4 linked regions of the Homo sapiens genome follow. The protein of the gene in region 3 purifies or fractionates together with the protein of the main gene of each other region. This does not show direct contact. Each region holds a gene or a part of one and is shown on either strand. Other genes may lie near its edges. The genes, in order: CCT5, SERTAD4, PPP2R2C and SIK2.

Region 1 (7,337 bases), on a different chromosome or scaffold from region 3:
CTAATTCGGGCACTCACAGAGGCAACCCTGCTTCCAGTAAGAAGCACCCTCACCCCGACCTGCAAATGGCAAAGTCACTTTTCCCAATTAGGAGGGCAACGATCAGGCTGCCCACCCCACCTCTGGTGCTCACCTGGGACTGCCACACCGTGCCCCACAACTCTGGCTTACCTGTCTCCATCAGGCCTCCCAGGCTACCTGCTACTGCCTGGCTCTCCCTCTCTTCCTTCCCTGACCCTCTGGAACTCAGTCCAGAACAGCAGCCTCCTTATACAATCTCTCCGTCACAACCCCGGAAAACCAACCTGCCCCTGCAACCCTCCTCAGATGGCAGCTGCTTTCCCTCTCACATGCTCAGAACAGGAGAGGGTCCTTCTTGCTCCTCAGTCACCTGCAGTGTTCCTCTTTGGGTCCCTGCCTCTCATTCTTTAACATTTTACTATCTAGCCCCATCGTCATTCCCTTCTCATTCTCAGCAACCTGCGCCTCACCAGCACGATCCAGTAACATCCCTGGCCTCTCAATTTATCTGTGGCCCCCCAGCACAGCTGAGGCACCATTCTCATGAAAACTGTCCCACCGGCCCAGATGATGGCCTTTTATTTATAAGCTCCCGCCAGCATGCTTCAATCCCTGAGGCTGGCTCTTCCTTGTACAAGCCAACAATGTTCCTGGCTCAGGAGCATCCCCATCTGTCCTCAGCCTGGAATGCTCCTCCCCCAGGGGCACTGCTCTCACCCTATGTTGGCCTCTCCTTACAGGTCACCTCTCTGACCAGTGTCTGTAATGGAGCTGTACCCACCTTTCTCTTATCTGTGTCTCAAGAGCACGAGCTTGGCTTCATTCCCTGCTGTACCTTTAGTGCCTACAACAGAGCCTGGTATGTCGTAGGCACCAAGAACCGTATCATCAATGAGTACATTCAACAACTTTCCCAAGAACAGACATGAAAATAGTCTCTAGTTGGTTTGCTATGATAAATAATACCCTAACCAACCCACGTTCCTGTCTTCTTGAGTACTGGTGTTTTCAACTCCCAAGGACGCAGCCCCCAAAGAGGAGTTGCTATGTCAGAGAGAAAGCACACCTACGCTAAGGTATTCATGAACCCAAACTAGACTTAACTGAGCAAAGAACTGGGATTACTATGAGTGCATTCTGGTTTAACTCCAGTTACTCATTAACTCTTGCCTAAAAGGTATAGTCAGAAATCTTAAAGGCAAGGTAAGCTAAGTTAAATTTGTCCAGGACGGCAAATATAATATGTACAATTGAAAGCACGGCTTTAGGTAACAGGGTCACTTCTTTCAGGACCCTGAACACACTACCATTTTTTTTGAGACAGAGTCTTGCTCTGTCGCCCAGGCTGGAGTGTAGTGGTGCAAGCTCAGCTCACTGCAACCTCTGCCTCCTGGGTTCAAGCGATTCTCCTGTCTCAGCCTCCTGAGTAGCTAGGACTATAGGTGCCTGCCACCATGCCTGGCTAATTTTTTGTGTTTTTAGTAGAAATGGCGTTTCACCGTGTTAGTCAGATGGTCTCGATGATCTCACGATCTGCCTGCCTTAGCCTCCCAAAGTGCTGGGATTATAGGCATGGCCACTGCACCTGGCCTGAACACGCTACCATTTTAAGACAAAATTAGAATTCTTCCCTGTTTATGCCTTTCTATGCAATTTGGTTTTTTCCTGTGTATGTTTTAGAACTGAAGAAAGACTACACATATTTACTAACCAAACCTAACTAACTGTACCCTTTGGGAGTTTAAATTCCACTGAGGACTCTGGTAAGACTTACTTGTTGAATCATCTCTTCAAATTTCTCCTTTTCGTATTTCTGAAGGGCTTTATAATCTTCGACAGAGGTCACATCCAGCTTATGCTTTGTTTTTGGTTTGGGTGGTTCAAATGGACATGTGAGAATTGCAATCTTCGCATCTTCCACTTTCTATGGGGGAACATAAAGACATTTTAATTGGTGGAATTAAGAGTTAACCAACAGTGCGAAGCTGTGAGATGCAATGGCTCACTTTTGGCATCTGTGGGTGACTGAAATCCTTGTCCACAATCACGCCCTTAATCAGTTTAGTGTCCTCCAGCCTGCCGCCCACTTTGCCTTCTACTTTGATAAGCTCAAAGTCAACGTCTCTCCGCTCCATATCTGCTACAGTGAGGACGGCATTCACAGCAATCTCAGCCATCTGTCGGTGACAACTGTTGACCCTGAGGAAAACACCACAAAACAAACTTCATTGGTTTCACAATTACTGCAACCAAAGCAGGCCACATAACACAATGTTACTCAAAGATATAAATCAAACGATGTTTTGAGTCTTCTAGAGGGGAATGCCATCTCAACCTGCATTTTCAACAGTCTGGGGCAGATTCTTAACCTGTGATCCATGGGCCCTAAAGGGGACTGTATACTTAGATAGGAAAAAATTACATCTTTATTTTCGCTAACTCTGAAATTTACTATTTCCTTCCATTATGAATGTACTCAAGAAACCACTGTAGTCTGGCATGAATTAAGGTCTTCTTAGAATGCAGCACTTTTACAGAATACTGTTACTATTTTACAAGTTCAGAACAGAATGGGAAAGGTAAGTAATCACTCAGGAAGAGTCACTCTTATCTCAATGAAGTGTAGCACTAACCAGGAACTGAAAGGACTGGACAGGGCATTTAAACTTTCCAAGAATTCACCACAACATCCATTATAGATGGAGGGTGTTACCTTTTTGAAAGCTTTGAAACATGTGAATAGACAGTTCAATAAATTAATTTTTGAGCCAAGAAAAACAACTAGGGAAACCTAGCACTTGAAATAATGTCTGAAATCACAGGTTATCTATAAAAGAGAACCATGAAAGTAAACATGTTGTATCTTAAGTAGATGACTTAATACTTGCAAACAGAACAAGGCCAACTTATAAAGCAACAAGAAAACTGATTTGTACACTTCAAGTAATGATGATGTCCTCCTTTCATGAGAAAATAAGTGTTATACTTGTGACAAGAGGCTACCCCTAGGGTACTCACTCTTGCCTAGGGAGCTAGTCTCTGCTGAGATCTGTGGTTAGAGGAGGACAGCAGGCATTGCTGAAGGCTTCTGCTCTAACATAGGCTTTGCTCAGGGGAAAAGGCAACAGAAGCAGACACTTTTCCTGCATTTTCCCTGACTACTCTGAGTTTAGAAGATCCCTCATTCCTTTTTGCTAAAACCACCACAAGCACACAATTGAAAACATCTCTCACTGATTTAATATAATGTAATAAAGCAGCTTACACTGGATTTTTATGTTATATTACGGCAACAGACCTTAAGTCTTTGGCATTGTACATAATCAGCGCACCCCTTGGCTGAGGTTGCTTAGAGTCTCCTGGGAGAAGAGCTGTGTCTTAGTGCCCATAAGACCTGGCAGTAAGCCTGGCAAACGGACATTACACGAACGCTGAAAACACCAGAGACAAGTCGCTTTCAAGACTCTCTTTACTAAATTATAATTTTGGATCGGCAATTTGCTGAATAAAAAGTGGAACCCACCCCCAATGGCTCCCCAGCAAAGAAATTATAGAAAGAAGTGTTAAGAAAATTCACATATCCTCCAGGTAGGACCCTTTCTAGTTGACTTTTTTTTTTTTTTGAGACAGGGTCTCGCTCTGTTGCTCAAGCTGGAGTGCAGTGGCATGATCATGGCTTGCTGCAGCCTCGACCTCTCACCTCAGCCTCTGGAGTTGCTGAAGTGTGTGCTACCATGCCTGGCTAGTTTTTTGTTTTGTAGCGATGGGGTCCCACTACATTGCCCTGGCTGGTCTTCAATTCCTGAGCTCAAGCAAGCTACTGCTTTGGCCTCCTAAAGTGCTGAGATTACAAGTATGAGCCACTGCATCCAGCCTTAGCTGATTTTTAACACAACCTATTCTGCTAAATTAAAATAACTATATTTTGCAAATATTGTCAAGGGGATTTATACCTGAACTTAGAAATTCAGTTCTCAACTTAAATACAAAATGCATCTGTCTACATCTACATTAAAAACAAAGCAAAACCAAGTAATCAAAACAAATAATCAAATCGATACAAATCCACCAGTGGTCATTTTGTGTTGCCTTTAAGAAATGGCAAACAAACTGCCTCCTCTACAAATGGGTAATCATATCATCTACTGAAACGTACACTTTGGAGCCCAGCGTGGTTTTTGCTGTCTGAATCAGGGGTTCGGTGTCCTTTATGTCAACAAGGACGCTATCGCTGATCTTGTCCAGGTGTTCAATAGCAACACGAGCAGCCTGCTCATAGCCATCGGCTATTCTGATTGGGTGAATGCCTCGGTCTAGCAATTGCTCCGCTTCTTCTAACAAGGCACCAGCCAGGACTGCAAATAAGCCAGCAGACAATCAGTTCAGGCAAACAACAAAACTTCACTTTTAGTATAATCAGCACAAGTTAGATGCTATCATGGAAAGAAGCAGCTTCTAGAATTAAGCTGCAAGTCATCTTAGAGGCAGAAGCCCTCTATTTTTAAAAGAAAGCCTCGTTTTAGTTCTAGCGAAGGTCGAATAGGACATGTGTCCCCTTACAGATGAACATTCAACCCTCAGTGATGTGAAGAACGTAACTAAAGAATATAATGTAAAAAGAACATTTTTCTAAGAGGTAAAAAGCTATTATGTTTCCTGGGCCAGGGTCTACTCAGTGAAATTCAGCCTGGTGATGAGACTAAAACGTGTTTATTATTTATTCCCCCCACCCCCATCCTCCTTTCTCCTCATTTTAGGGTCGCAAAGATGAATTTTGTTTAAATCTACAGCTCTCCAAGCGCACCGAGAACAGTGCTTGGCATACAATAGTATCCAATAAATATTTGTTGAATGAATTCAAATTTCATCTGCAGAAAAGGTAACCTTACTGATATTTTGTCTTCAATCTCCCCAACTTTTTAAAGATTTCAAATCTTCAGAAAAAAAAGGTACAATACTAAAACGAATACCAGTTTACTTATTAACATTTTGCCACATTTTCTCTACATGTACATACTGTTTCTGTTCAACTATTTGAGAATTAGTTACAGAAACCATGACATGTCACTCCTAAGTATTTAGGTATACAGCTGAGAAGAAGGGCATTCTCCTACACATCTGCAATATAATGGTCACAGATCACTCAGGAAACTCAGCATTGCAGTACATGATCCAAAATCAAATTCTTCCACGTTTCCCAAACATCCTTTATAGCTTAAAAGACAAGCAAAATCAGTGTCCAATCAATCATTACACATTTCTCCATGCCTAACAATCCCCAGCCCTCTTTCTGTTCTTTTGTAACACTGTCAGTTTTGAAAGTCCGACATTTGTTTTGTAGCATGTTTTCAACTTGGATTTGTCTGTCTCCTCATGCTCTGATTCAGAGACAACAATCTCAGCAGGCATGTTAGCCCTGTGGTCTTAAATGACGTCTCTTAAATGAGAAAGGATGTTTTGTCTTTTCTTACCAACCACTCCTGTGGTTCCATCTCCAATTTCATCATCCTGAGACTTGGACAGTTCCACCATCAGCTTGGCAATCTGATGATCAACATCCATCATGCTTAAGATGGTGGCCCCATCATTAGTTACAGTCACATCTCCATCCTTATCCACCATCATCTTATCAAGCCCTAAAAAACAACGTTTAGTAGGCTTTGCGCAAAAAACTGGCAACCAATATCACAAACTATAAAACAAGACCTCCTGACCCAGCTCTTATCTGTGCAATTTATTATATACAAATAATGCAACATACACAAAATAGTAGCTGCATGAAGGCATTTTTAGATTGGCTAACATAATTGGCAAAACATTATGGAGCATCATTAAGTATAATGTTAATCTCAAAAGACAACTATGATTTGGAAAATGCTAATGAAATGATGTTACATGCTAAAAAAAAAAAAAAAAAGGTCCGACCTAATATTGCACACGATTATAACCATGTTTAAGAAACCTGAAATACACTAAAAAATTTTGGCTGTGTTAAGGAAGTAAGATGCCTCCCCTCAATACTCCACCTTTCTGTAGAGAGGTTTATATTGACAGTTTTATAATTTAAATCTTTTGCTAAAAAACACGGAATGGTGGACTCTTACCATTTGGTCCAAGTGATGTTCTCATTGTATTTGCTACAGCCTTTGCTGCCATTATATGAGACTAATGAAACAAACAGAAAAAGCAAACACTGTTACATATAATTTCAATGGTTAAAAGCACACATCTGATGACTACAAAAATCACTTATGACTTAGTTTCTATTGTCTAGAAGCTTCTACATTTAAGGGGCAACAGACAGGTTTAAGTATTATAACATTTACGACTCCAGTTTTAATAAGCAATTCTTACGTAAAGAAAGAGAACCAAGTGCTTTGTGTTATCTCACTGAATTTTCAACACATTAATGAGACAGATTCTTTTACCAGCCCATTTACAGCTGAGAAGAGGGACAGTATGACTATGACCTTACAGGCGTTGCAAGACCACTGTGCAACACAGTCCTCCCTGAGCATCCATGGGGAATTGGTTCCAGGAGCCACAGTTCTCCCTGAGCATCCATGGGGAACAGGTTCCAGGAGCCCCCGAGGATACCCAAATTCACAGATGCTCAAGTCCCTTGCATCTAGGCTTGTACATCTGCGGGTTCCCCATCTGCAGACAAGGAGGGGCCTGTACTCATGAGAAACAGTCCAACTGTAAACATACAACACCTTACTGTCACACTATGATTTACTGCAGAATTGTAATCTTTTGAGCTGGATGCAGTACTAGAGCCTGCAACCCCCCCTACTTGGGAGGCTGAGGCAGGAGGATTGCTTGAGGCCAGGAGTTTGAGATCAGCCTGGGAAACATGGCGAGACCCCATTACAAAATAAAAAGAAAAACTGCTCTTGCTTTAAAAATCTTCCTCCACCCACCTGAAATCCCAATAATTATATTTATAGATCAAAGTTACTGACTGGCCTTTTTTTTTTTGAGACAGTCTTGCTGTGTCTCAAAAAGGCTGGAGTGCAGTGGCATGATCTCAGCTCACTGCAACCTCCGCCTCCCGGGTTTAAGCGATCCTCCTGCCTCAGCCCCCCAGTAGCTGGGATTACAGGCACGCGCCATGACGCCCTGCTCATTTTTTTTTGTATTTTCAGTAGAGATAGGGTTTTGCCATGTTGGCCAGGCTGGTCTTTAACTCCTGACCTCAGGTGATCCACCTGCCTTGGCTGCCCAAAGTGCCAGGATTACAGGTTTGAGCAACCACGCCCGGCTGAAACTGGCCCTCTTAAGGAAGGTAAGTAGCTGTCAAAGTGATAATAAAA
Region 2 (7,568 bases), on a different chromosome or scaffold from region 3:
AACTAGAAAGAGGGCCAAAGATGTAAGCAGGAAGACCAGTTAGGAGGCCATTGTCATATCCTAGGCAGAAGATCATGATGAAAGCGTGGACCAGAATGGTGGTGGTAGAGATAATGAGAAGTGATCAGAGTCAAGAAATTTTTTTTTTTTTTTTTGAGATGGAGTCTCACTCTGTCACCCATGCTGGAGTGCAGTGGTGCGATCTTGGCTCACTGCAACTTCCGCCTCCCAGGTTCAAGAGATTCTCCTGACTCAGCCTCCCAAGTAGCTGGGACAACGGGTGCATGCCACCATGCCTGACTACTTTTTTTTTTGTACTTTTAATAGAGAGGGGGTTTCATGATGTTAGCCAGGATGGTCTCAATCTCCTGACCTCGTGATTCACCCCCCTCGGTCTCCCAAAGTGCTGGGATTACAGGCATGAGCAACCGCGCCTGGCCGAGTCAAGAAAAAATTTAAAGGTAGCCTCTCAAGGACTTTCTGATATATTAGATAAAGGAGATGAAGTAAAAAAAATCAATGATGACTCTAAGGAGTTTTGTCAGAGCAAGTAGAAAAATACTGTTGTTTATTGAAGGAGACTATTAAAGGTGGCATAGGTTGGGAAAGCAGAGATAATAGGGGTTGAGTTTTGGGTCTGTAAAGCTTGTGATACCCATTAGGCATCTACACAGAGTCTGGAAGTCAGAAGAGAGTCTTGGCTACAGATATGAATTTGGGAGTCATCAGAATATAGAGAGTTTTGAAGGGAAGAGACTAGATGAGATCCACAAGAGAGTGACTGTAGAGAAGAGACAAGGTGCAAGGACTGAGCTTGAGGCAACCCAACATCCAGAGGTCCTAGATAAGAGGGGGAACCAGCAAAGGAGACTGAGAGGAACAACCAGTGAGGCAGGAGGCAAATCAGGTGGATGTGTTGTCCCAGGAGCCAAGATAAAGGCGTTTAAAGGAGGAGGGAGTGGGCAACTGGGTCAAATGCTGCTTAAGGGTCAAGTTAGATGCAAAATGGCCTTTGGATTTAACAACGTGGAGGTCAGTGGTGACATTGACCAGAACAGTTTCAATGGAGTGATCGGATAAGAAAGCCTCAGTGGAAAAGGTTTGAGAATAGAAGAGGAATTGGGTGCAGATGCTTCTTTTTGCCATTAAAAAAATGTTTTTTTTTTTTTTATTGTTGCTGTTTGTTTTTTTGATGGATTCTTGCTCTGTTGCACCCAGGCTGGAGTGCAGTGGTGCGATCTTGGCTCACTGCAACCTCTGCCTCCTGGGTTCAAGCTATTCTCCTGCCTCAGCCTCCTGAGTAGCTGGATTACAGGCGCCTGCCACCATGCTCAGCTAATTTTTTGTATTTTTAGTAGAGGCGGGGTTTCGCCGTGTTGGTCAGGCTGGTCTCAAACTCCTGACCTCAGGTGATCCACCCGCCTTGGCCTCCCAAAGTGCTGGGATTATAGGCGTGAGCCACCGTACCCAGCCAAAAATGGTCTATTTTTTTAAGCCAGTAATTTTAACTTTCAATTAATCCAAGTGGGTATTGTGTCCACAACAATCTGAATAAGTCAAATTTTACTTGTGAAATCCCCCTATCAGACAAATGACAAAAAGGTTTTGTGAAATGGGTTTCAGCAATTTTAAGTCTGAAAGTCTCTTTGTTAAACAAAGGAAAACAACCACTGCCTTCAGTAAATTTGCAGCTCAAAGTATTATAAGTTTTATAATCAAACTTCTATTTGGAGCTTCTCACACACACACACACATACACACACACACACACCCCAAAATGATGACATCATAGTTGTCAATTAAATATTGTACCTCATTATAAATAACAATTACTCATTCCAAATTTTTCATTATTGATTTATAGTTGGTTCTTTTTTCATGCCATAGCTACCACATAGTCACCTTAAATTTGTAATGAGGTTTCTCATTCCATAGACATTTGTCTGCCTCTTGTACTTGTAGACACAGGTTCATGTTGTCAACAGTTGGGTATTGAATCTCAAAAAACATTAAGCTTAGGATTAAAGGTAGGGCAGGGAAAGCTGTCAGTAAAACATGCTAACCTAATGTATCTGATGAGGACAGGGTCTAGTTCATACTCAGAACTGCAAGGATGCTGTGAAGTACAATGATTTGATACTTGTGATACCATTTTGTTGTAACATTAAAGCCAAGAGTCTTCTCCACCCAAGGGCAATGCCAGTTTCCCAGAAGGCTCATTTCTCCGAGCCAAAGCTCCAAAGATGCCAGTGCACCCATGCTGATAACTTAGTCTCATGTTATTTCTCAATTTTATGCTTAATTTGCTCCTTTTGATTTTATGTATTTTCACACAGCCAAGTGTACATGGGGATTTACCCATAGTCCTTTAAATGCCATAAAACTTTAATATAGGGAGATAAAAACCATAATAAGCCATGCCTCCAAACCCTCACATTTAGTTCTTTTGAGTTTGACAATAACCAGTTTTAGATTATTTGGAAATTTGGATTTCTACGTACTTGCACTGCTTTAAATGCCCTTGTGCCTTTCCTAACCCTCCTCTCCCACCCAGATGAAAATTATACTCTACTCTTAACCTGGACATGCAACTTCCATTGACTGCACAAAATGGCATCTTTACAATTCTTAAATTATCATCATAATGGCCCACATCATGCATGAGCCAATGCAATTTAATATGGTTCAGAATAAAGCCAAGATGGATGCCCAATTCCCAATTTTAGGCATGCAACCCTGGAATGTCTTTTGGAAAAAATGAAATAATGCTCTTGGTAGGCTGTTGGGTTCATCTGTTTTAAGCATAATTGCCATCTCTCAGCTTCCTAATACCCTTAAAACCTCTGAGAGTCTTTAATGTACAAAGTTCAACAAAAACACCTTCAAAACAAATTAGTTCTAATTATGTTTAATATTGGTTTGCTGCTTTATTGAATAATCTACATTTGCTTTTAAAAAAAGGAAATTCACTTAACTGCATGTCAGTCACCCAAGTTTTAAGTGTACAAATGAAATGGAAAACATTTATTACACAAATTTAATTACAATTCTAAGAAATAAACATGCAAATTAGATAGAGTTCAATTTGCAGATGCTAATCCTCATCCTTGATCTTGTTCCTTCCTCCCTTGATTTTCAGTCTGTGCGTCTTCTTGATTCCTAGGGAGCCAGGCAGCCAGAGGTCTGGTTTTTCACAGTCGGAGGATCACTGTTTTAAAGAAGTGTTATATTTAGCACATCTGGTATAGTGGCAGTAAACAAACATTATAGTCTTTGTAACACTTTTGTGCAGGTGCCTTCTCCCGATTTTATTAGGTCTATGCCTTCCAAGCCTCTGCCTTCATTACACCTGAAATGACCCATCTCGACTATGGAGGGGTCCCTAGACAGAAGTTATGAATTAATGATTTTAAAAAATAAACTCTGAGGCCACTATAGGAGAAAATTACTATTTGCAAAATATTCTGATTCCAAGGCTTAAATTACATTCTCTTGAGCAAGGACAATCTCTTGTATTACTTTTTATTTCCTGGAGGTTTTCCCTGGAGGCTCCCCACCCAGAAAGGGTTGCCAATTCAAGTTGCAGCAGGACCAAGGTTGCTTTTTTTTTTTTTTTTAATACGTACGCAGCTCAGGAGGGAAACGGGCGGGGGCGGGCGGCGAGGGAGAATAACTGTTTGGTCCTGCAAAGACATCTGTTTCTCATCTCCGTTTGCTGTGGCAAAGGAGAAGAAAGTCTTTTGCAAAGGGTGGGAAAGGCACAGATTTTTTTTTTAATCACACGCACACACAACAACAACAAAACTAAACCAAATTTAAAAAGACAAGATATCTCGGAAGGTTCCAGAGTGAATACATTATTCGGCTGGAGCCAAGCCCCCAGGGCTAGGGCGGGAGCCCGAGAGCGCGTGGGGTCTGGGCTGCGGGCTGGAGCTGGGCCCGCGTGTCCCCGGGCACCGGGAGGGGAGGGGAGGAAAAGGAGGAGGGAGGGCGGGAAGCAGGGAAGGAGGCAGGGGGCGGGCTGGGGTGGGGGTGCGGGAAAGGCGCCCCGTGTGCAGCCTGAGGAGCGGCGGCGGCGGCCTGAGCAGAGGGAGGGAGGGAGAGCGGGCGCGCTTGTCATGTTCCCTCTCTCACCCTGGGGGCATCCTGCAGAACCTCTCCTCGGAAATCCACGGGGAAATGGCAAACAGGATTGACGGGTTTCACACGCTCCTCGCTAGACAGAGCCGCTCATTACCATAACCGTCTGCAGCGACGGCGGCGCAGCGCCCCAGTCGCGGCGGCGGGACCTGCCGGGACCCTTGCCCGCCGCGCACCCGCAGTCACCGCCGAGCGGGCGGCCGGGCCGGGACCCGCGAGTGTGCACCGGCGGCCGGGCTGGCGCCGAGCCCAGAGCGGACCAGCAGCAGCTCAAGCGCTGCGGCCGCCGCCTCCCCGCTGACCCCGCGGTAAGAGCCGGGCTGGGCGCGGGCCGCGGGGGCGGGAGGGCCGGGCAGGGTGGAGGGCGAGGGCCCCCCGGGGCTCCTGCCCTCGCAGACGGGCACCCACGCGGCCTCCCGCGCGCCCTCTTGGCACCAGGGCTGTGCCGAGGTCACCGAGTGGACTCGCAGCGGCCGGAGCGGAGTCGGGGCGGCGTGGGGGCCAAGGCACAGCTGGGCGCGGAGGCGGCGCGGGCTTTTCCCTGGGCTAGCGTGCGCCGCGGCGCCTTCACCAGGGCGGGAACCGCCGCCTCCTCTAGGGCTGCTCGGGCTGCCACCCGCGCGCACCGAGACAACTCCAGGGGCGGGTGGGGTCAGAAGCTCTGGTGAGACCTCATGGTCCTCCGTGGCCGCTTAGTCCCTCATCGTAGGGGAAGGGGTTAAGTAGGAGGGGTGCCCCCAGGTCCGGATGCCGCGGCGCTTGGCAGGTGGGGAGAGAGGGATTGTGGATGTCAGGAGCGCGCGTTTGCAAGAAAAAGGAATTGATGCAGTAGCTGACACCTTCTGTCCCCCGCCACCTCCGCCCCCGCACCCTCCTCCCAGGCAGCAGAGCTGCGCTGCGGGCGGCGGCGGCTCCTCTGTCCTCAGCTCACCTCCTCGGCGGGCTGAGGCTGCTGCCCGCCTGGTCCACGCCTCCGCCTCTCGCTTCCCTTCCTCCCCTCCCGCCTCTTCGGCCCTAGCAACTTTCCGAGTGCCCAGCTGTGGTCGCAGAAGCAGGGAATAGGCGTCCTCGCCGCCAGGTCCCACGGGCGCAGGGCGCTCCCGCAACCGCGGGCTTCCAGCGGGTTTGGCCGGCAAGGGAGGGAGGGAAGGCCGGGCCGACATCTGCTGCGGGCTGGAGCGCGGGGGCCCGGGCCAGCCCCGCCAGAGCCCTGCCAGCCGCTGTGAGTCATTTCCTTGGAATCCTACCTTTGGTGTTTATTTCCCTTAGAAGGAAACTTGGTTTTTTTTTTAAAAAAAAAAAAGGATAAGACATAAAGAATAATAATAGCTCTTATTCTTCAGAAGAGGCACACGGCTGCGGCACCGTAGAAAGACAACTTGCCTTTGTTCCCGGACACTTGGGGTGTTGTTTACTTTCTCCTGCGGCCAGCGGCCGACCGGGCGCTGCTGGCTACCCGGGGAGGGGCTGAGGGCTGCGGCACCGACACCCCGGGGGTGTGTCTGTGCGGGAGCCAGGATGTGGTTGGTGGCTGCCGCCCGCCTTCAAGAGGTCGGCCCTCCAAACCTCGGACCCCACCCCCGCAACCGCCACACACACACACACCTTGGGCACCAGGGCTCGGGCATCGGAGCACCCCTTCGTGCTCTTTAGGCCCAGCACCTGCAGCCCCAACCACAGGACCCAGCTTCAAGCTCTTGGCCTCGCGGGGCTGCAGCTGAGAAATGTACTTCCCAGGGCAGACAGGTGTACTGCAGGAACGGCAGAAAAGCGACATCTGTTTGTTTAGAAGGGTTGAAGAATTTTGTTCCGCCCATCCAGTCCCTTCCACTACCACCACCAGGAGCCGGACAAGCTATTGAGATCATTTTGGGACAATGTGGAGGTCAGGGGCTTGATGCCATTTAAAACTGGCAGCATCGATCGGGGGTGGAAATAGCCCTTTACTTCCCTGCTTTCCAGTGCTGGAATCAGACTGCTAACTGCTATAATGATCTTAATCAAATGCTCTCCAATTTTCAATGACAGATGGAAGAAGAAGTGAGCAAAGAATGACCTGGAGCCCCTTGTTAGATTCAAGGTGCCGCTGAATTCATAGCTACCCTGTTTTGTGTGCCAGCCACTCCTATTAGCATCATAATTGCTTCTAGGAAAGAACAAGCCCAACTCATCTGGAAAAAAACAAATTGTATAGAAATGCCTGGTAACTTTACTACGAACATTTGCTGGAAAAGCTTGGCATTCTAGCCCTCAGTCTTCTGGGGATGCTGGAAGTGTCATTCCACTACATCCACCTGGGTGTCAAAACAGACATTCAGGAGCCTGAGGATGAAGGGTTAGGGCTTTTTTTTTTCTTATCTTTTAAACCCATGCATAGACAAAACACACTCTAACACCCTCCTGTTGAATCCATCACCTCTGATCTTAGAAAATAAATTTTGCCATAATGTATATCCTTTTCTTTATTTAATATTAATAGAACACGAATTTGTGGACTTGAATTGCTGACGTCAGTAGCAGAATTATAAATCTTATCAGACAGAGAATTATGACAGTTTAGATCTCTACATATAATACGAAGAAAGATTCACGTTAAGCATTTGTGCTTAACGCTGCCCTGTCCAATTTTTCGTGAACATTCAACTTGCCTTCTTAATTTGTTAACATCCAGTGTAAGTTTTAAATAGACTAGGAAGACTCAATTGCAAAATCTCCTCCCCGCTCCCAAATAATCCCAACTCATTCATGTTTTATTCAGATTTACATAAATCACTTGCAGAACTCAGCCTCTCTAGTTTAGGGTTTTGTGTGTAACAGTTCTCAATTTAAAAAAGAAAAACTTAGTAAAATTAGATATTGTGAACAAAATAATAGCCAAGATAAATACTGTTATGCCATGTTTCAAGTTCACGTGCATAATAGGATATGCTGGAAATAATGCTAACAAATAGAAACGCTGAAATTCCTCACAACCAAAAAAGGTACTACCAAAAAGTTATTAAAATATAAACAAACTCTGACAAACATAAAACAGCACAGGGCCCATATAATGTCCTGTTAAACAAAAGTAATTGCTGCCAGGAGCCTGCAAATGTTTTTCTTTCTTAAGGGGCATGAGTTTGACAACCTGCTTTTGTTTACATGAAATAAAAGTCTGCATAGGCAAAAGGCTTGCATCTTATTCCCATGATCTAACACAAAAGTGAGTGTAAACTTCAAACTAGAAAATGTTGATTCTCTCAATAAGAAAGGGCTGCTGACTGTTGAAAAGCTGTAATTCATGTGCTCTTGGCAATAGTATTTCCTGATATGATTGTCTCTTAGAATAGGTGAAGAAACTGGACAATTTCATGAGAGTCTTCCAGGGAATAAATCATCATGAAGTTTGATACCCTACTTGGATGAGGAGTTTGAGAAATGATAGACAG
Region 3 (8,144 bases):
CCGCCTCAGCCTCCCAAAGTGCTGGGATTACAGGCGTGAGGCACCGTGCCCAGCCTCCAGTTTTAAGAGAGGATGCTGGGTTTGGCGTTAGAGGTGATGAATGGCTAGAATCAAAATGACAATACCTCATTTAAGAAGGTTGTGGATCAACAGGGACAATCTTCTGTTACCTCTTTGGTAAACTGGTTGACGTCCATGACTAAAGCTAAACAAACAGACCCTATCACTCAGCAATTCCTAGAATTTCTTTTGAAGAGAATCTTGCTGTGTGGCCCAGGCTGGAGTGCAGTGTGGCACCATCCTGGCTCACTGCAACCCCTGTCTCCAAGGCTCAAGTGATCCTCAGCATCCCGAGTAGCTCGGACCACAAGCATGCACCACCATGCCTGGCTAATTTTTGCATTTTTTTAGTAGAGACGGGGTCTCCCATGTTGCCTCGGCTGGTCTTGAACTCCTGGGCTCAAGCAATCTGCCTGCCTCAGCCTCCCAGAGTGCTGGTGATATGAACTGCTGCACCCAGCCAGTTCCCAGAATTGTGTACACATGAATGCTGAGCCACAGAATTGTTGTTCATAATTAGCCTCCACACTGAACAAACAACCTATGTGCCCAACAACAGTGGGGTCAGCTGCAGTGTATTTCTGCCATAGAATATTACACAACAATGAAAAATGAATAAATTACAGTTACATATATATAAATAACATGAGTGCTTCTCAGAAAAAAAACATTGTGCAAATGAAAGCAGTTATGAAAACATTCCTACCTTACAATTTACTAGTAAACTAGTAAAACTACAGTGTTAAAAGTCAAGATGGGGGTTATCTTTGGGGTGGTGTCTTAGTCAGTTTGGACTGCTAGAACAAAAATACTGTAGCCTGGACGGCATAAACCACAATCTATTTTTCACAGTAATGGAGGCTGGGAAGTCCAAGGTCAAAGTGCCGGCAGATCCTGTGTCTGATGAGGGCTTCCTGATTTGTGGATAGCCAACTTCTTGTTGTGTCCTCATATGACAGAGAGAGAGGGAGAGGGACAGAGAGGGGAAGCAAACTCTCTCACGTCTCTTCTTATAAGGCGGCTAATCCCATTATGAGGGCCCCACCCTTGGGACCTAATCACCTCTCAAAGACCCCACCTCCTAAAACCATCACATTAGGGGACAGGATTTCAATATATGAATTTTGGGAGTCAACAGCTGTTCAGTCCATGGAAGTGGAGAGAGAGGGGAGTGAGGGAGGCCTCGAGAGGTGGCTAGCGCCCTTTCCTGACTTGGTGGTTAGATGAGTGTTTACTTTGTGGTCGTTCTTCAAGCTGAACAGTTAACTTTTGTGCAGTCGGCTTGGGCTGCCATAATAAACAAGATAGGATAAGTGGCGTAAACAACAGAAATGTACTTCCTCCCAGTTCTGGAGGCTGGAAAGTCCAACATCAAGGTTCTGGCCAATCTGGTTCATGGTGAGGCCCCTTCCTGGTTTGCAGGCGGCCACTGTCTCGCCGTGTGCTCCCGTGAGCACCTGGGGAGAGAGTGGGCAAGCTCTTTGGTCTCTTCCTATAGGGGCACTAATCTCTCCATGAAGACCCCACCCTCATGGCCTTGTCTAACCCAAATCTCCCAAAGGCCCCACCTGCAAACATCATCACATTGGGGGTTAGGGCTTCAGCCTGTGCACTTGAGGGGACATGGTGCGGTGCACAGCACACTTTCCATGCATGTTCTCTCTGTCAATTACAACAAGTTGGGGGCACAGAAGCACAGGGAGACATAGCCTGGTGGGGCCGTCAGAAGGAGTGGAGCATGTAAACCTGCTGAGAAGTGGCAGCGAAAGGTGGTGCCACTGAAGTAAAGGGAGGCGCATGGTCCACAGGGTGAGACCACGAGAACTCAGCATAGAGAGAGGCCAGCATGCGTCCACTGGTTCCAGGAACAGGAAAGTCATTCTCATGCCGTCTGACACAAGTTTCTTTTCTGGGGTGGGATGGATGGCAAGAAGCCAGGTTGGAGGGCACGGCAGTGAGTGAGGAGATGGCGAGTGTAGCTGTACCCTTTTGGCATTGTGGTTGTGAATGGCAGAAATGCAATGTGCTGGTGGCTGAAGGGACACGGAGTGAGGATAGCTTTTGAATGTGGAAGAGACCCAAGCAGGCTTACGCTGTGAGAAGCATCTGGAGAGATGCTGACAAATTTCACCTTATTGAGCTTTCCTCTACACTCACCTTTATAAAATGGCACCTCCTCCTCCCCGTTCCTTTCTATCTCCATCTCCATCCCCGCCTTCATCTCCATCTCCATCCCCATCTCCATCCCCGTTCATCTCCATCTCCATTCCCGCCTTCTCCTCTGCACCAGTCATGGCCCACACAGTACATGCTCACTTTATGCTGTCCATCTCACCCCACTGGGAGGCCAGCTCCACGAGAGCAGAGCATTTCTCTATTCTGTCTTCCACACTACCCTAGTGCTGGGAACATGCCTACACATAGTAGATGCTCAATAAACATTCCTCATTGAATGAATGAAAGTACAGAGAGGAGTCTGTACAGAGAGGCTGGGGGTGGCAGGATCTGGAGCTCAGGCTCTGTCAGCGGGGGCAGGGCTGTGTGCAGATACAGATGAGGAAGCAGCAGATTGTGTGATTTAGTGGAGGTGGGGGGTGGGCAGGGGGCTGAGGGAGAGTCCTCGGTTGTGCTGGAGGGGGAGGGCTTCCAGGAAATGGAGGAGACAGTGTGGAGGAGCCCAGACACTGCTTGTGGTGGGGGTGGGGCAGGATGGGGTGGTGAGGGGTGAGGAGGGGATGGATGCAAGCCTTGGGGCCCAGTCAGGTTGGAAAGACCACCCACTGCAGGGTCCCCAGCATGGCTCAGAAGCTGATGAAAGGGATGATGTACTGTGTCAGGCCAGAGTGGGGCTGTTTTCATTGTAGTCCAGGACATCCCGGGAGATGAGGCTGATGCCAGCATAGGGTGGGTGTTTTGGCAGGATTGACAGATAGGGAGAGGGGACTTCTCCATGATCAGAGAGGGAGGCTGAGGAACATGCGGGAGGGTGGGCCTCAGCATGATAACAAGAGAGCTCCCAGGAGGCCTGACCCCTGCTGAGCAGGACTGGCCACCCCAACCCAGTGGGGCCACTCCTGCCATCACATCCACTTTACAGATGAGGTTGTGCCTGGGCCCCCTTGTGGTCAGGACTTGAACCCAGCCTGTCTTTCTCCCAGCATAGCCATTTTGCTGGCTCCAGCTAGAGAGGTGAGGGGGTGTGGACAGAGAGTGGGGGGCTGGCCTTAGGATGTGAGGTGGGGGGCATGTGAGCAGACAGGTGAGAGAGAGAGAGGAGAACATGCCAGGTGGGTGGGGGCCAATGTGGGTGTCGGTCACTTTCCTACGGGGTAGAAAGTGACAAAGAACAAGCACATCCTTCCGGCCCTTGCATTTACCTGGTCCTTGAATGGAGTCTGCACAGCTGGGAGATTTTGGCTTGTTCCACAGTGAAAAGGTAGAGGCTGGAACAGGGCAGGGCACTTGCCAAAGCAGGTGCTGGCAGGGCCCCAGGGCCTCTCCCCAGGCCAGCCCTTGCATGACAGCCTGCAGAGTGCTGGTGGGGCTGCTGGGGGGCTTTCATCTCCTCATAGGTCCATTCTGGGGATTTCAAAGGCACGAAAGCTGTAGCTTCAAAAACTCCCTCTCAATCTCCAAGAAATCTGAGACGGCATCACCTTCCCTCGTCTTTCCCACAGCCCCAGTCTCCCTGCCCCCAACGCCTTTGGACTCTCCTACCTCCACTGCAGTTTGGGGAGCTGTCTGGAGTTCCCCCAGAACCATTTGAAACAAGTGGAGGCCATTACAGACCAGCCCCCACCTGGAGCATGGCTCCACTGATGCCTTAGACCCAAGAGCCCCTGCAGCTCTGGTCACCCCACTGCACTTACCCCTCCCAGGCAAGCCACAGAGTCCCTCGCTTTCCAGGAAGGCTCTGTTGAGCTCCTAGGGAGGGCTGATGGTTCCTCACCCACACCTCTGAATCCCCACTGGGGCTTGTGTCCCGTGCAGGGGACTGTGATTCATTAGGCGGTGGGTCACGGTGGAGGAGGTGGCAGCTTGGCAAAACAGGAGGCAAATATTTTTTGAGGGCCCACTATGTGCCAGGCTGATTACCAGAGGGAGGTTCCTGTTTGGCAGAGCCCTGGGTTTGGAGGGGAGGGAGGGAAGGGAGGAGGGGGACGCATTTTCCAGCCTGGTTTTGGAGGTACCTAGCTCTGTATTTCTTTAACTTTCTCACTCGTCAGGAGAGGTGGGCATGAGGAGAGATCTCAGAGCCCTGCCTGGGGGAGGCCCAATCACCCCTCCAGCCATTTCATCCAGTTTTGCCTTGTCGGCTGCTGGACCCCCTCCACCAGCTTCTTCACATGTACTTAATGCTCCCAACGGGCCCCAGAACTTGCGCGACCCACCCTCTTCTACTAATGAAGGGAGACAGTGTCCTTCCCCTCCCCCGAGTCCCCATTCTCCAGGTGCGCCCTCTTCAACTGCGACCCCACTCCTTCCTTCCTAGTCCTTTCTGCCTTCTGCCTGCGAGGCTGCTCTCCTCCTGCCCCCTTCCCAGCACCCCGGCTCTTGGCCTTCTCTCCCATAACTGGAGCACCTGGGCACCCAAGGTACCCTCCCCCCAAGCTCAGCTGATCACCCTCTCCCCGCAAGCTGGCGGTCTCCTTCCTCCCTCCCCCGTGGCGCACCCAGCACCAAGGTGCCCACCGCGAGGGCCCGAGCACGGCGGTGCAGCCTCGGCTTGGGCGCCGGCTCCACCTGCAGGGCCGCGGGGGCGGAGAGCGGGCGGCGCGAGGGAGGGGCCTGCGACAGCGGCGGCGGCGGCGGCCCCAGCCCGCGCAGCCCGGCTCGGCCCCGGCTTGGTCGGCGCAGCGCAGCGCCGCGCGCGTCCCCTCGCCGCCGTCGCCGCAGCCAGGCGCACCGGCACCAGGCCCCGCCGCCGGGCGCACGGACGCAGCGCGCACGGGCCGGCCGGGATGCGCGCCTGGGCCCCGGCCCGCCCGAACCCGCGGCCGCCGCCCGCCCACCGCGCGCTCGCTTGACCGCGGCGCCCGCCCCCGGCCGCCCCCGCCCGTCCCCCTGCCGCGATGCCCTCCCTTCGGGGCCCCGGCGGCCCGCGCCCCTGCTAGGCTGCGGCGGCATGGCCCGCGCGCCCGGCGCGACCTCTGCGGATTGCATCGGTGTGTGGCGGCGGGGCATGCCCAGAGCACCGGGCACGGCCTTCAATGGGCGAGGACACGGACACGCGGAAAATTAACCACAGCTTCCTGCGGGACCACAGCTATGTGACTGAAGGTAACGTACGTGTTGTCTGAGACCCCTCCGGCCGGCCGCGGCGTGGGGATGCCGTCGCACCGAATGCCCTCCGAAGGTTTGGACCGCGCGATGTGTGTCGTGTCCCCCCGCCCCACCCCACCCCACCCCATCCCACCCCACCCCACCCCATCCCATCCCACCCTGCCCGGGGCCCAGGAGGGAGGGAGCCCGAGGGTACCGGCCTCCGCTGCCCAGCGCCGGCACAGGGCAGCGCCCTCCTCCGCGCCGCCCTCCGGGAGGCAGCTTTCCTCTCCCAAGCCAGGTGGCATCCTGATTCGGCCCTGACCATAATTTTTTAAAAGGCCACGGCTGTGGCTAATCTGGTGAAGAAATCTCGGGGAAATTTAATGGTTTAAATCCTGGATTTGCCATTTCAGCCCTGCCCAAAGCCCGCAGAATTTTCTAGGCTGCCCTCTCCCTGGAGAAGAAGAGGGACCCGGGGGGAAAAAAACATAATCCATTGCCAGATCCTCCTGGGAGGCCCGCCTGCCCGGGCCCCTCCCTGTCCTCCAGAGGCAGGGTCCCTGAGTGGGAGGGAGAAGGCGGCTGGTTTGGGGCTGGCCTTTTTATTCCTGGTGAGTTATATTGAGACAGGAGCAGCTGGGCTAACTGTCGGGATTTTCCAAAAAAGTGGGACATGCCATCCCAAACAGGCCCTGTTTAAAATCCCCTAAGTTGGCCCTACAAGCCCAACCCCCACCCCCACCCTACCCCCGAGGCTGGTGGGTCAGCGCCCCTCTCTTACAGGCCTGGAACTTCCGGGGGCCCCCTGGTCTGCCTCGCTAGGGGAACAGTGGGGACAGCTTCCGTGCGCAGGCAGGGCCCGCGGAGTGACCCCGATGGAGGATGGGGACCGGGAGGTCTGGGCTCGGGGCCGCCTGTGCTGGAGCCCTGCCCGAGTGCGGGGACTGTCAGCCGCTAACCCACGGGCTGGCGGCCCGGCCGCAGAAGTGTGCGCGGATTCCCCGGGTGGGTGCCCCAGTGGGAGGGGCCCTGGGCACGGGTCCCGCGGGGCAGGTGCGCGTGGGTGCCTGTGTCAGGGAGACCGAGTGGGCCAGGCGGCGGAGACCGGGCTCCTGCGGCTGGGTCCGCCTCCTCGAAGCCTGGCTCTGCCGGAAATGAGGCCGAGCGGAGCCGGAGCCCCGCGGAGGCCCGGGGAGCGCAGCGCGAGCGCGGGCGCGGGCGGGCTCGGGGCGCCCTGGCCCGGGAGGCAGAGGCTGGGCGTGGGACCTGGGCGGAGGGAGGCTGCGGGGGCCGCGCCCGCTCCCGGCGGGAGAACCGCTGAGTCACGCACGCTTCGCCGCCGGGTGTGTGCGAGAGAGGGGCAGGGCTGCCCGGGCCTCCGGGCCGGTGGGGCTCTGACCCGGCCGCGGCTTTGGGAGGCCCGGGGAGCTGAGAGCGGTCCTTTGTCGCCTGCTTCGGCGAGGCTGAGTCGGGATCAGCGTGGGTCCGGGATGTGGTTTCTGCTCGCAGCCTGCAGCGACAGAGGGTTGGAGGAAGCCGCCGGGTTGCTGGCCCGTGCCTCGGTGGCCTGGCTCGGGCCGAGAGCGGATCTTGGCAGGTTGCCCCGCTGCTCCCAGGCTCGCTGTGGTCTGGCTTCCTGGAGCAAGCCTCTGTTTGCTCATCTCTACGTTGGGGATGACGGTGGGATGGGGCGCAGGGCTCGTTGTGGGACCAGGCGTAAAAAGCGCCATGGTGGACATTTTCAAACATTAATTCCCTCTGCACCCTGCCCGTCCCCTTTTCTTTCATAAATTCACCAGCCCTCAGCAGGGCACAGGAACGGGGACGGCACAGTTCTGGAGGTCAGAGCAGTGCTATCCAATCCTTCATCCAGACACGAGATATTTACCGAGCACCTGCTGCATGCCGGGCACTGTTTTATCCCTGGGGACTGGACAAAGACTCCCTGCCCTTGTGCGGCCTGAATTCTATCAGGGAGCTATATGACCTTGAGGTCTGTCTTCTCACCAGGGCTCAGTCTCCCCATCTGTAAAATGGGAGTGAATCCTGCCTACAGGGTCTGGAGGTTTCTGTGAGGAGCAGGTGCAACGGTGTTGAAGGAGCCGTTCAGAGCTATGCATTGCTAACGTGCAGCCAAAGGATGCTGAGCACCTGCTGTGTGCTGGGACCTCATACGAAGGCTCACCTACGCCTTATCCCCACCTTGAGATGAACAAACCAAGGCCTGGCCTTGTGCCTGGTCCAGACCGAGTGCCAGTGTGTGCAGGGCATAGGGCTCAGGTGCTGCGGATGCAGAGAGCAGGATCGGAACAAGAAACAATAATAATCATTATAATAGGTAGAATTCTGGCCTCCCTAATGAAAAACACACTTTCACACTGTTGCATCCTGACTATATTTCATGCTCAGAGCACAGGGAAGGTCACAGATTTGAATGTCAGAATGTCAGACTTGAATCATGTTAAAGTCCTGCCTCTGACTCCTGACTGCTGTGCAGCCTTGGACAAGTTACTACACCTTCCTGAGCTTCACTTTCCCTTTGTAAAGGGAGAAATAATAACGACCTTTCATACAGGGTTGCTGGGATGATCAGTGATTTTGCTAATATCAAAAGTGCCCAGCACAGTGCTTGGGTTGTTGGAGGCATTGAACACATGGCATTGTTATTATTTATATGCCTTGTAACTGGAAGAGCCTGTGGGCAAACAGTGGATGCTAAAATTCAGTTTGCGGAAGAACCAGGTGCACAAACTCCTGTTCTACCTGTGGTTGAGTCTACACTCCCCCACCACACCCCAGCTGCTCTGATCTACCTCCTG
Region 4 (8,240 bases), on a different chromosome or scaffold from region 3:
AACTCATCAAATGGTATATATTAAATGTGTGCATCTCATTATATATTAAGTACACCTCAATAAAGCTATTTTAAAAATAAAAGTACTAAAGAAAGTTTTCTTTAAATAACTTCAATCCTCTAGTTTATTTCCATAATGGTACCTTACATGTAGTGGCATCCACATGTTGATTAACCTGACTGATTGATGTTTGTTTCATGAATAGCTGTACTTTATACTAATAAGAAGCCCTTGGAATGAGCACAGGTCAGTGATTTGGATTTTCTTGTGTACTTCTGTCTTTGTTAATATAAGAGGCAAAGTATTCATTCTAGCTTTGTAATCTACTTTTTCTAAGCAAAGTTGTCTAATAAAGATTTCATCAGTTTTTTATTTGAACTAAATCTAAATCCAGGCCTAAGCCTAGTTTTTTGTTTTGTTTTGTTTTGTTTTGTTTCGTTTTTGAGATAGAGTCTCACTCTGTAGCCCAGGCTGGAGTGCAGTGGCGCGATCTCGGCTCACTGCAAGCTCCGCCCCCTGGGTTCACACCATTCTCCCACCTCAGCCTCCCCAGTAGCTGGGAGACAAATGGTACATATCTTTTTTTCAGGTTCACAGGCTGTCTGCTTCAGCAAAATAATATACAGAATTGTGAGCCATGAAGTCTTCTTTCCTCACATTTCAGATCACTTTTTCATTACCTCTTTGCTAACTCGTCTCCTCATTCCACATATTTATTTATAATCCACTTTATTCTAAGTAGGTTATAGAATTAATTCTTAAGTCTCTCACTATCTTACTTAATTCTTTCTCTGTGTACACCTTTTTACCTTTTAAAGTGTTCTGTTAACATTTTTTAACCAACTCAATGCTAAATATCATAGACCCACAGCATCAGCTGGGAATGCTGCATCTGAAAGCTCAAGCAAAAAGGAATTTGGTGACTAGAGTGCTTTCCCTCACTGATACTAAAACCAGAGACGGAAAAGAAAGATGGGGATTGTATGAAGCTCTCTTTCTTCTCCTTTTCCCTCTTATCTTTATTCTTTTTTCCTGAGGATGGTGTGTGTGTGTGTGTGTGTGTGTGTAGGGAAAGAGAAAGAAGAGGAGAAAGAGGGAGAGAGGAAGAGAAAAGGAAAGCAGGAGTTGGATAATATTAATAATTGCTAAAATGTATACAGCTATCATTTAATTGGAAACAAAAATACATAAGAGACAGGCAGGGTTGAAATAGGACAGGGATGAGTAGGTCTTTTGGATTAAGGAAAGAGTTGAATCACAGAATCCAAGATTGCAGTATTCTAAATTAGTCCACATATATGTATTTCTTCAGGGTTTCATTTACAGCCTACCAGTAACGCTGAGTAGCACGCCCACTGCATTTCCACATGAGTAAGGCTGATTTTTGGCACAGCCCCTTCTGTCTCTTCCCTCTTTCTGGCCTCCTGTTCTCTAACTTGTAGACACCCAGCATGCTCACACTAACTCCAGCTTTCCAAAACCTTTTGGTACTCTCTGTCCTCCCTTTTTCTTCTTTCCAGCCCCAAATCAATTCTTATTCCCAGACTGTGCAAGTAGGTGTTTGGCCTGGTTATCTAATTTAAATACTCAAATGAATCCATTTCCATTCAACAGGTATACTTTAAAGGATGAGGTTGTTCACTGTAGTGGGTCTCCCTGCGTATTTTCTGGTTCTTGGTTAAGTGGCTTTTCATCAGATTCCCAAAGGAACCCACCCCCAGAACAATTAAAATACAATCATCTGGCTGGGCGCGGTGGCTCACGCCTGTAATCTCACCACTTTGGGAGGCCAAGGCGGGCAGATCACAAGGTCAGGAGATCGAAACCATCTTGGCCAACATGGTGAAACCCCGTCTGTAGTAAAATACAAAAAATTAGCCAGGCATGGTGCTACGTGCCTGTAATCCCAGCTACTTGGGAGGCTGAGGCAGGGGAATCGCTTGAACCCAGGAGGCAGAGGTTGCAGTGAGCTGAGATCATGCCACTGCACTCCAGCCTGGCGACAGAGCAAGACTCCACCTCAAAAAAAAAAAAAAATACAATCATCTAAGTGGCAAAATGCACATGGGAACTATTTTTGAACTGGTATACATATGTAGGTTCCTAGCCTAATTAGAATACCTCTCACTAGTTAGAGGACCACTCATACACCACTCCCATCAATTCAGAAATCTGATCAGCCTTACAGCTTTCCCCCATTTCTCCCCTCACTTTTGCAAACAACATACCTCATGGTAGAATAAGGTATTGCTTGGGGAGAGTGAAAAGCAGAAGCACAGGGAGCAGTGGAGGGCCCAAAAGCCATCTTGCACTAAAAAATATATATATATAAATTTTAAAATAAAATAATACACAATATATTAATTTTCATTAAAAAATTAAAACTACAGAAAAGTTGCAAGAACAGTACAACGATCTACCACATACCCTTTTACCTACCTTTTACCTATTTTATCAATTTAAAACTTTGCCACATTTGCCTTATCTATCTGTGCTAAACTACTTGACAGTAAGTTGCATATATCAAAAGGTTTTTTTTTGTTGTTTTTTGTTAGAGTCTCACTCTGTCACCCAGGCTAGAGTGCAGTGGTATGATCTTGGCTCACTGCAACCTCCGCCTCCCAGGTTCAAGCGATTCTCCCACCTCAGCCTCCAGAGTAGCTAGGATTACAGGCGCACCACCACCCAGGCTGGTCTTGAACTCCTGACCTCAAGTGATATGCCCACCTCGGCCTGCCAAAGTGTTGGGATTACAGGTGTGAGCCACCACGCCCGGCCAAAAATTTTATACCTAATTGTTTAGTGTGTATCTCCTAATAACGGATACTCTCTCTTATAATCACAGTACAATTATAAAATTCAAGAAGTTTAACACTGAAACAGTATCTTATCTAATATGTAATCCATATTCAAATTTCAGTAGTTGTTCTGAAATATTCCTTTATAGCATGTTTTTTCAAGACCACATGTTGCCTTTAGTGCCATGCCTTTTTAAATCCCTTAAATCTAGAATGGTTCCTCAGCCTTTCTTTGACTTTCATGACACTGATGTTTTTTAAGGATACAGGTCAGTTGTTGAGTAGAATGTTTCTTAGTTTGCATCTTTCTGATGTTTCTAGATCATAATATGCATTTTTGACAGGAATACTACTTAAGAGATATTGTAACCTCAGTGCCTCACATCTGGAGGCACATCATGTCATTTTATCACATAATTGGTGACATTAACTTTGATCATTTGGTTAGGGTAGTGTCGGTCAGATTTCTCCACTGTAGAGGTACCCTTGTTAACCCTTTATCATGAATAAGAAATCCAAAGACTGTGCAAATATCTTGTTCCCCAGCCAAATTTTATTCAATGATTTTAACATCTATTGATAATTGTCTGAATCCATTATTACTGTAATGGCTGCCAAATGATTTGCTAATTGTCATTTCTTCTAACATATATTAGTTGGCATTCCACCGTCATTTCACTTCTCCCCTCTTTATTTTTCTGTTTAAAAGTAAGTATGCTCTACGATTCTTTTAAAAAATTCAATGTGTTAGAATCAATTTCTATATTTATTTATTTATTTATTTATTTACTGAGACAGAGTCTCGCTCTGTCGCCCAGGCTGGAGTGCAGTGGCACGATCTCGGCTCACTGCAACCTCTGCTTCCCTGGTTCAAGCAATTCTCCCTGCCTCAGCCTCCCGAGTAGCTGGGATTATAGGCGCCCACTACCACGCCCGGCTAATTTTTGCATTTTTAGTAGAGATGGGGTTTCACACAGGCTAGTCTTGAACTCCTGACCTCAGGTGATCCACCCGCCTCAGCCTCCCAAAGTGCTGGGATTACAGGCGTAAGCCACTAAGCCCGGCCCATTATTTATTCCTGATACTCAAACTGTCTCAGATTTGGTAAGGGGGGAGCACCTTCGAGCCATCTGCTTTCTTTTGACATATCTTCCTTGACATAGCCAAGAAATCTCCTTGCTTTAAGGAGCAGGATCTTTCAAGGGCATTTTATACTTTCCCTGTCTCTGCCCTCGAATGAGCCATCTCGCCACGGAGTCTGGCTCCTTTAGGTGGAGAATGGTATTTAGAAACCAAGATATAAAGGCATATGATACATCTCAAAATAGTGAGGTGTCACTGTCCCTGTTTCCTTGAGTCACATTTGGAAGCGTGGTGTGATTTATAATCCTACCTCGACTATTGCCTGTGTGACCTAGGCAATTCCCTTTATTCCTTGAGGTCTTCTTCGTCCTTTGGGGAAAAAAATTGGATTAGAGAAATATTTCTAAACTTTTTCAGAGTCACCAACGCGTTTGGGAATCTGACAGAAGCTACGGGTCCATCTCCCCAGAGACATGCTCACATAAGCAAAAACTGGCCTGTGTTTTAGGGGGTTCCAAACTCTGAAGCTCACATGAGGCTCCAAATCTCTGGATTAAGTGATCTCCAAGATCTCTTCAGCGCTGACATTGACATTCTGTGAGTCTATAAGCGACTGCACTGCTGTCAGAATGACTCCTCGGAGACATCAAAACGTGGAGGGTTTTATTATATATAGCAACGAGAAGAGAAAAGGACACAAAGAAAGGAGCCTGTGAGCAACGCATTGCTCAGCCACAGTTCTTTGCCGGTGCCAAATTTAGGACGCGCTGTACTTGTAGGTGAGAGGTTTTGGCGGGAAGGACCCCGGGTGGGCGGAGAACGCCGGGGCGGGGAAGGAGATCGCAGGCCGCATCCAGGTCTCTGCACCCCTCCGCACGGTCCGCCAGGGCTCGCTCTTGCCCTTCGCCTGGAAGGCCGAGGAACGGAGCGGGCCGAGCAGCGACCCCGCCCCTGGCAGCGGTGAGGCGGAGGGGCGAGGGGAGGGCGTCTGAGCCCGGAAGGAGCGCGCCGGCCAGGCTCGCGCCCCTCCCCGTGCGCCGTCCCCCACTCTCCAGCAGCCGACGTCGGCGGTGCTTCGGTCGCCATGGTGACCAATCCAGGCTCGGGCCCGCCCCCGCCCCCCTGCCCCGGCCCCCTGACGTCGGCGCACGTCAGCGGCGGCGCGCGCCTGGCTGGGCCCTGGGGAGCGGGAGGGAAGGAGCGAAGGAGCGAAGGAGCAAGCGGAGCGGCCGTCGCCCAAGCCAAGCCGCGCTGCCAACCCTCCCGCCCGCCCGCGCTCCTGTCCGCCGTGTCTAGCAGCGGGGCCCAGCATGGTCATGGCGGATGGCCCGAGGCACTTGCAGCGCGGGCCGGTCCGGGTGGGGTTCTACGACATCGAGGGCACGCTGGGCAAGGGCAACTTCGCTGTGGTGAAGCTGGGGCGGCACCGGATCACCAAGACGGAGGTGCGGCCCGGGGCTCGGCGGGAGCGTCCGAGGCGAGGGTTCGGGAGAGGAGCTGCTTACCGAGAGGGGCGGCCGCAGTGGTGGGACCGGGGAGACCCGAGAGGCCGCCTCACTGGCGGAGGCGAGCGGGCCTGGGACTGTGAGGACCCAGGAGGTGCAGGGGGTCGGTGAGCAGCGAAGGGATCGGGCCCGGGCACCCGGACCCGAGTGTCGTCCGACTGGAAACGCAACCAGCCGGGGCTTTGCTTTCCCCTACGCCACCCCCGGTGGCCACCCGGAATTTCGCCCAGAGCCCCCCACCCGGGCCGTGACCTGGTCTGTGGCCTCCGCTCCGGAGCCCAAGTTCCGCGTCTTCCCTGCTTTCGGCTGGGGGTGGGGTGGGAGGGGAAGTCTCGGTGTTCCCAGGCTGCGCCGTGAGAGACGTCGCCGGCCCGAGGAGGGGACCGCCTGCGCTTGGGCTCCGCGGATGGGGGATCGTGCGGCCCCCGTGACCCCGGCGCCCCTCCCCTGCCCGACGAGGAAGGGCCCCATGGCTGGGAATACCCCCACGGCCACTGTCCATCTCCTCTCCTTCCTTTTGGCCCAGGGTGTCTCTGATTTGGTGTCTGGCTAGCTTGATCTCTTGCCTGGGGCATTTCCATTTAATGCCCCAGACAATAGAACTGGTTAAAATGGTCATCTCTGCATTTGCACGGTGGGTGGATTGGTCTTCTACTTGTCTAGGGTTGTCACTGTACCAGGTGTGCATTCTGGCTGTAATACGCATTCTTTAAACCATATCAGATTCTGCCTCTACTCATAAAGCCCTCAACTGCTTCCTGACGGTGAATCCTGCACCCTCTTCATTGCACATTCTAATGCACCGCACATACTCTCTCACAAGTCTCTGTTCTTACCTAACCCGCCCCCCTTCCTTCCACTGCCTCAAGCTGCTCTCCTCAGGGTCTCTATTTTAAGACGTGCAAATTAAATACCTTAGAAGAACGGTAGAAACAAAACCATTCTTTAGAATAAAACCTAGTGGTTTTGACGTACTCTACTCTGCCTTATTGTAGTTCCTCCTGGAGTTTCATCCTTTTCCTGTTTGTTTGCCCTCCAGTTTTGGTCCTATTCTGCTTTTTCCCTTGTTAGTACGAATGTACTGGAGTTTGAGTGTAGAATAAAGTAGGACTTCTTTTCAGAATGACTTATGTAAGGCGAAGGGCACTTGCAAACGTGAGTGATTTTTGGAGTTGCAGTTGTACTTAGAAGTTTTGCTTAATCCCGTTTCCAAAAGGAAGGGGTATATGTCATTCTGTCTTCTTTACTTTTTGCCTTCCCCTGCTGGTCCTGAACCAGTCCAAATCTGACTTATCTTTTAGAATCAGGACCAAGGTCAGATATTTTCTTCTCACAGATTTACCAGTTAGCAATTTAGATTGTTTGTAATGATAATGATAACTTGACTATAGTGATATTGTTAAATCTTAATCTGATCCCAGCATTTTTTAAAATGAAGAAATTGGTTCCATTCCTCTGAAGAGCCATGGCCTATGCCATGCCATTTCCCTTTAAGTTACATAAAAGAAGGCATTTTAAATGCATGTTTTATGAGTCCTTGCTTAATGACTTTCTAAAAACAAACAAATTGTGAGTTATAGAGAGGTTCTACAAAACTTTTGAACTGTAGTATATCGTGTGGTTGAATTCCAAATCCATCAGTTCTTAATATTTTTTTCTCATCAGCTCTTACTGGGATTAATAGCAAGATTTAATTAAGTCATCTATTATTTATCAGGTCAAATTTAGTTAATACAGTAAGAGCTGCTTAAGTGGAGTGATTGACACTTTGAGGTTGACAATTCAAATGGTGTCCGTTTTAAACTAATATATCTTAAAGAGCTAGGGGGCACTATGGAGTAATACCGTGGTTTGGCTATCAGAGTGAGATCAATGCATTCATTTGTAATTGGAACAAGCACCGGTCAGATCGTGAAAGAGGACTTAGATCCTAAATCGTGTGTGTAGTATATATGTGTAAAATGATTTACGTTAAAAGCTAAATGTTTAGTCCGCAGAACCCATTTCCCTGTGCTTTTCTAAAGAAGCTGTTATTAACATATAAAAAGAAATAGTGTGAATTTGAGATGGGTGAGGGTATCTGTGGTAATTTGGTGGGTGTGATTGGAGATATTAAGGTAGAGAGGGATAAGTGAAATGTCAAAGCAATCTTTGAACAGAAAAGTTCTCTGGATCTCTAGGTTGTAAAGTTGCTCTGAATTTTTTTTTTTTTTTTTTGAGACGGAGCCTCGCTCTTGTTGCCCAGGCTGGCTGGAGTGCAGTGGTGCGATCTCGGCTCACTGCAACCTCTGCCTCCTGGGTTCGAGCGATTCTCCTGCCTCACCCTCCCAAGTAGCTGGGATTACAGGCGCTCACCACCATGCCCGGCTAATTTGTGTGTTTTTAGTAGAGACGGGGTTTCACAGTGTTGGCCAGGCTGGTTTCGAACTCCTGACCTCAAGTGATCCACACGCCTTGGCCCCACAAAGTGCTGGGATTACAGGCGTGAGCCACCGCGCCTGGCCCAATTGTTTCTTAAAGTATTCCATGGGAGTAACAATTCCATTGTTAATGATGTTTTTTACAGCAGTTATTTATCCTTATTCGTTCATTCACTGGATAAATGTTTGTGTGTTTTTGATAAATACAACTACCTTAAAAACTATAAGATGTTTAATTAAAACTTTTGTTTTAAATTCAGTTTTCATGGCAGAACATACTACAGTAGTTATAGTGGAACAATGAATATGGTATAAAAATAATATCAGCAAAATATCACAATTATACTTATTGACGATAAAAGTTTCTTTATATACTATGCTTTAACATCGATACAAGTTTGTGTGTTTTAAAACTTAGAGGTCTTTTTTCCCAA

The links.
Region 1: the proteins of PPP2R2C (region 3) and CCT5 purify together in Homo sapiens (affinity purification with mass spectrometry; 5 studies listed by BioGRID and IntAct, with this or other methods). This does not show direct contact.
Region 2: the proteins of PPP2R2C (region 3) and SERTAD4 purify together in Homo sapiens (affinity purification with mass spectrometry; 5 studies listed by BioGRID and IntAct, with this or other methods). This does not show direct contact.
Region 4: the proteins of PPP2R2C (region 3) and SIK2 purify together in Homo sapiens (affinity purification with mass spectrometry; 5 studies listed by BioGRID and IntAct, with this or other methods). This does not show direct contact.

What each region holds. Positions count from the first base shown.
Region 1 is NC_000005.10:10,252,994-10,260,330, reverse strand, and holds part of CCT5 (T-complex protein 1 subunit epsilon), read right to left. Parts: intron 6,187-7,337; coding exon 6,126-6,186; intron 5,658-6,125; coding exon 5,493-5,657; intron 4,377-5,492; coding exon 4,178-4,376; intron 2,221-4,177; coding exon 2,028-2,220; intron 1,946-2,027; coding exon 1,796-1,945; intron 1-1,795. UniProt on the Homo sapiens protein: Component of the chaperonin-containing T-complex (TRiC), a molecular chaperone complex that assists the folding of actin, tubulin and other proteins upon ATP hydrolysis.
Region 2 is NC_000001.11:210,228,564-210,236,131, forward strand, and holds the start of SERTAD4 (SERTA domain-containing protein 4), read left to right. Parts: upstream 1-4,232; 5' UTR 4,233-4,448; intron 4,449-5,071; exon of another isoform or gene 5,072-5,322; intron 5,323-7,568.
Region 3 is NC_000004.12:6,469,356-6,477,499, reverse strand, and holds the start of PPP2R2C (protein phosphatase 2, regulatory subunit B, gamma), read left to right. Parts: upstream 1-4,885; 5' UTR 4,886-5,270; coding exon 5,271-5,340; exon of another isoform or gene 5,341-5,388; coding exon of another isoform or gene 5,389-5,416; intron 5,417-8,144. UniProt on the Homo sapiens protein: The B regulatory subunit might modulate substrate selectivity and catalytic activity, and might also direct the localization of the catalytic enzyme to a particular subcellular compartment.
Region 4 is NC_000011.10:111,597,373-111,605,612, forward strand, and holds the start of SIK2 (serine/threonine-protein kinase SIK2), read left to right. Parts: upstream 1-5,076; 5' UTR 5,077-5,191; coding exon 5,192-5,326; intron 5,327-8,240. UniProt on the Homo sapiens protein: Serine/threonine-protein kinase that plays a role in many biological processes such as fatty acid oxidation, autophagy, immune response or glucose metabolism.